Regions from separate parts of the Homo sapiens genome. Here region 2 is linked to region 1. Evidence: fine-mapped expression QTL. Tissue or cell type: whole blood. Region 1 holds a variant in brackets; the other region holds the start of a gene. All regions are shown on one strand. Distances are from middle to middle.

Region 1 (2,673 bases):
GGAATTAAATAAGCACATAGAGGATGGTATGGGAAGAAATTTGGCTGATCGATGCACCGATGAAGTAAACGCCTTAGTGCTTCAGACCCAGCAAGAAATTATTGGTAATATTTATGTCTACAAGGTCATGTCTGGTTTGTTTTTTCATTCATGACTGGTGAAGAGCTTATTTTCCTTTAGGCATTCCATTGAAGGTAAAACATTTACCATTCTTATCTTAAGTGTTGTAATTTTGTTCTTTCTAGAAAATTTGAAGCCATTACTTCCAGCTGGTATACAGGATAAACTACATACACTGATCCCTTGCAAGAAATTTGATCTCAGTTATAATCTAAATTACCACAAGTTATGTTCAGATTTTCAAGAGGATATTGTATTTCGTTTTTCCCTGGGCTGGTCTTCCCTTGTACATCGATTTTTGGGCCCTAGAAATGCTCAAAGGGTGCTCCTAGGATTATCAGAGCCTATCTTTCAGGTATGTATCTTTGAATCTACCAATTAAGACTCTCCTTTATTATTTTGTTTATGTGGTTTTTCTATAATAAAACTAGCTTTACAAAATCTGCACATTTAAAAGCTAGTATCTATCTCTTAGAGCCATTTCTGAGGTAGATATTTAGTTTGAGCATCTCCAATCTGAAAATCCTTAAAGGTCCAAAATGAAAAACTTTTTGAGTACGGTGACACCACAGGTGGAAAATTCCACACCAGACCTCAATGAGGTCATAGTAAAAACGCAGGCACACAACACACAGTTTATTCAGTGTCCTCAAGGGAAAAAAGACTCAGCCTCTTCTAGCTGCAATATATCTTTTCCACGTATGCCCAAATTCCCCCACACAAGCACACCTATGAAGGGTACTAAAATGGCACATGTGCAGGTCCAGTGCACCAACAGCATTTTCCCCATGATGCCCCACAAGGGGCCAAGACCTTTGTGCATTACCCAGTATGGGCTTCTTTACTTCCTGTCTTTTCTCTGGTGTAAAGATACTGTTTAAAAAAA[A/T]TTTTTTTTTGAGTGGGGATGCGTTTGAGACAGAGACCTGCGCTGTGGCTCAGGCTGGAGTGCAGTGGTGCAATCTTGGCTCACTGCAACCTCCACCTCCCGGGTTCATGCGATTCTCCTGCCTCAGCCTCCTGAGCAGCTGGGATTATACGCACCCACCACCACACCCAGCTAATTTTTGTATTTTTAGTAGACATGGGGTTTCACCGTGTTGGCCAGACTGGTCTCGAACTCCTGACCTCAAGTGATCCACCTGCCTCAGCCTCCCAAAGTGTTGGGATTACAGGCGTGAGCCACAGCACCCAGGCTGTTTAAAATGTTTAAAAGGCCTACAGATACCCTTGTGGGTGACATTGATAAGAAAAAGAAGAGGCATTTATTTTTATTTATAACACATAAATTTAAGCTGTTGGAAAAACTGGACAATAATGTAAGTGAGAAACTTCTTACAGAAGAATGATGTTGGAATGAACACCATATATGACCTAAAAGAAAGAACAACTTTCCTAAAGTTGTTCTTTAGGACTAAACTGTTGAAGTTCCATGCTAAAAATGATGACAGAAGTTAATGAAAAAAACAAAAACACTGCAGAAAGTTAAAAACGAAGATCTTGATCATGCATTGAAAGAGTGGATCCATCAGCATTGCAGTGAACACGTGCCACTTAAGGACATGCTGATCATGAAATAAACATCTATTAAAATGAACTGAAAATCGAAGGGAACTGTGAGTATTCAATAGGCTGGTTAGAGAAATTTAAGGTAAGATAGCATTAACTTTTCTAAAGGTTTGTGGTGTTAAAGCATCTTGATCACAAAACAGCAGAGAAATTCATTGATGAATTTGCCAAGATTGTCTCTGATGAAAATCTGACTCCAGAACAAGTCTATAATGCTGATGAAACATCACTGTTTTGCCATTATTGACCCAGAAAGACACTGACTACAGCTGAGGAGACAGCCCCTACAAGAATAAAGGATGCAAAGAACAGAATAACTGTGCTGGGATGTGCTAATGCAGCAGGCATAAATGTGAACTTACTGTGATAGGCAAAAGCTTGCATCCTCACTGTTTTCAAGGAATGCATTTTTTTTACTAGTCCATTATTGTACTAACAAAAAGGCATGGATCCCTAGGGACATCTTTTCTGATTGGTTTCACAAACATTTTATACCAGCTTGTGTGCACTTGCAGGGAAGCTAGGCCGGATGATGACTGCAAGATTTTGTTATTCCTTGACAACTATTCTGCTCATCGTCTAGCTGAAATTCTTATTAAAAAAAGTGTTTCATTATTTCAACCTTGTGACCAGGGTATTCTACGATCAATGAAGAGTAAATACAAAAACCTTTTTTGGGCAGCATGCTAGCAGCAGTGAACTGAGGCCTGGGTGTGGAAGGTTTTCAGAAGGAGTTTAGAATGAAAGATGCCATAGATGCTTTTGCCAGCACAAGGAGTTTAGGATGAAGGATGCCATATATGCCAGCACTTGGAAGACAGTGACTCAGTTGTGTATGCCTGCAGCCTCTGCCTGTCACTACATTTATTGATGATGAGGAGCAAATTGGTGACTTTGAAGTATGTCAAGTGAGCTCCTTATGCAAAAAATAATATCTTCAGAGTCCATCCGTAAGCTGGAAGAAGGATATATCAAAGAAGTGTTTGA
Region 2 (2,803 bases), 72 kb after region 1:
CAAAGACTCGGAATAACTTCCTAAATAATGTTTATGGGCCCACAAAGAGTTGAACCAACCTAAAATATCACAAGCTGTATCAATCAGTTTTATAAATGTATATACAGAGGGTTGACAACGTTCAATAAGATGATATTTTAAAAGTTTCTATTTCAGTTTCAAATTCATCTACAAACCAAAATGCAACATGGAAAATCTTAAAATGTCTTTAAGCCACATACTGAAATATACAGTAAATTTTCAGAGCCTAGGATCAGTAGTAAACCAAAAGCCCCAAACTGAAGAGTATTAAAATGAACAATGGCAGAGACTCGAAGCACACAATTTTGAATGCACCTAATCAGCCGTCCTCCTCTCCGACTAGAAATAACTTCCCTCCCATCTTAAATTAAGTAGCGTGTGTTCTGTCTCTGTCCTAGAAGATGTACTTAATGGTCATAAACTCTGTTTGCAACACTGAGACGGACTCATAATAAAAGTTCTAATCAACAATTAAATTTTGAACGTTTTAAGAAAACTTCCCGCTAAGCCACACGCCAAGCTACTTTGTCGGTGGCTGAGAGGGAGAAAGATGCATCCTTATCCTTTATGGAAAGAGAAAGGGAAGGAGTGGGAGAAAAGGGAACACAAGGAGACGAAAAATAACAAAGTATTGCTTGTATAAACAAATGAAAGCCTGGTTTCAAACTTTTGAAAATTCAACGTTCCCTTAGCGAATAGCAATACATATCAAAGTATATGGCAATCATCTGTGTTCTGAAGCAGAAAAAGGTGGAGAGAAAAGCAAAACACTTTTTATTGTACTGAACTCACAAGTATTCAAAATTCATCAATCCCCTCCCATCCCCAAACTCTGGACATTATATCATTTCCAAAATAAATCTGAAACAAAACCATTGGACTAATTTTGGACTCAGCGTAGAACTTTTATGAGTCTTCCAAGCACTCTCCACCCAACAGCCCTGCTGGGCAGTCCCGAATACCCGTTATTTTGGGGGCACGCACGGGCTCGTGCTCTGAGTTCCTGGAAGGAGGCCTCGGGGAGTGACGAGAAACCAGGGGGGTCTGCAGGACTTGGACCGCCGACCGTTCCTCGCTCCCCGGGGCGAGCGGTCTGGACCGCCCGGGAAGTGCCTGCGCCGGCGGTCGTGGGGCCAGTTCCCGCGTGGCAGCTGGGCGCGACACAGGCGCGCCCTCCTCGTCCCTCCCGGGCAGCGTCGGCCGCCCGAGCCCGGGGAGACCCGCCCCGCCCCGCGCCGTCACCCGGGCCCCGTTCCGCAGGGGTGGCTCGCGGCGCCCCACGTCCCTGCGAGAAGCCCGGGATCGCTTCGCGGGGCGCACCGACGAGCCGCCGCTCGCGAGCTCGCCGCCTACCTGGAGGGAGCTCAGGCCCGCGTCGACCGCGCGCTGCCGGTGTCCGCTGGGCGCTCAGCAGCCCCTGGAGCGCGGAGCCGGCGTGGAGAGCGCAGCTCACAGCCGAGACCAGAGCCGCCGGCCACACCCAGTCCCGCACCTCCCAGCAGCCAACTCCGCGGCGCGCCGGAGCCGGGGCGGGGACGTGGCTGGAGGCGCGAGGCGCGAGGCACGAGGCGCGCGGGCCCGGCGGGGACGTGCCGGGGACGCGCAGACCCTCGGAGCGCGCGCAGCCCGGGCGGGGGGCGAAGGGAGCGGGCGCCGCGCGCAGCTTCTGCTTCCTATTTTCTCTCTCGTTTCCTGCCAGAAGGAGAAGAAAAACATTCATTCCCGGGCAGTTTCGTTTTCTTGTTGGTGTGGCGCCGGGGCACGCTGCTAAGTAGCGCCCGTCTAAGTGGCGTGGCCAGTTTCCTTTCCGGCGCTGACAGGCGCCAGTTTGCTTGTTAGCAGGATCGAAGGGCAGAGCTAGAAGACCCCAAAGGCCCCATTTAGGTTTCCCATTCTGGAATTCTAAATGTCAGAAAGTAAACTGAAGCCCAGAGTTGCACAACCTTGCGTTGCAGTCCCCGCTCTTCCATCACTAGTTGTAGGACCGTGTACCGTCTCGGGCCTAAGTTTCGTCATCGCCAAAATAAAGATACTGATACCTGCCTCATAAAGGTGCTAAGCATATTAAATGAAGTGATGTTTGCACGAAGCCTGCCTCCAAATAAATGGCCAATACTTGGAAGTTATTGTTCCTATTGTCATTGATAAAACTGGAAGGCCTTCCAGATATCCCTGCCAAGTCGCTCTTCTCTGCATGAGTTAAACACCACATGCATCTCAATCGAGTTTTTTTTTTTTTCACATTTATCTGGGTGTTTTATGTTTAAAATGTCATAAAATAAATGCATCTATCCAATTTGCTTCCTCTGAAGTCAGTACCGCCTGGGAGCATTTTTCCTCTCCCCACCCCCATTTTTCTTCTGAGTTAATTCCAGTTTGACAGACTGTTGCTATAGCATTCCTTCTCTGACGTCAAACAATTTAAAGAAACAGCCCTGGGTAGCGAAAACTGCAGAGGAGTTCTTTGTGGAGTTTCTGTGCCGGAGAAATGTTCGAACAATATCATCAGATAACTTTAACAACCCCTCAGCCTTCCAATCCTCCTTCTGTAGCTGCTTCCCACTATCACCTGGAATAAATCTATTAGTCCCTTGAAAGAGGTGATGCCATGATAAACACACCCTGTTTGTGACTGTGGGGAAAATGTGACCGTTTTGTATAAAAGCCAGGCCGTGACAAAAATAGAAGCAGCTGTTTCTATTTTCTTTATCCACAGATAAAGAAACTGTGGATAATTTTTCCCCCAAAATTTTCATTTTTACTAATATTAGGAGCATTTTTC

What was found. PIP is the estimated chance that this variant, and not a neighbour inherited with it, causes the effect.
Region 2: it holds the start of GNB4, and the variant in region 1 is fine-mapped to the expression of GNB4 in whole blood (TOPMed, PIP above 0.99).

The regions. Positions count from the first base shown.
Region 1 is chr3:179,378,340-179,381,012 of GRCh38, forward strand. It overlaps MFN1 (mitofusin 1), which reads left to right. Exons shown (of 18, transcript NM_033540.3): 13 at 2-104; 14 at 246-475. Among named protein-coding and RNA genes, the nearest start is that of MFN1, 32 kb to the left of the region's middle. The variant A/T (reference allele first, on the strand shown) is at 1,007.
Region 2 is chr3:179,449,972-179,452,774 of GRCh38, forward strand. It overlaps GNB4 (G protein subunit beta 4), which reads right to left and starts at 1,499. Exons shown (of 10, transcript NM_021629.4): 1 at 1,375-1,499. It also overlaps the pseudogene RPL29P34. RefSeq lists silencers at 1,070-1,479, 1,520-1,669.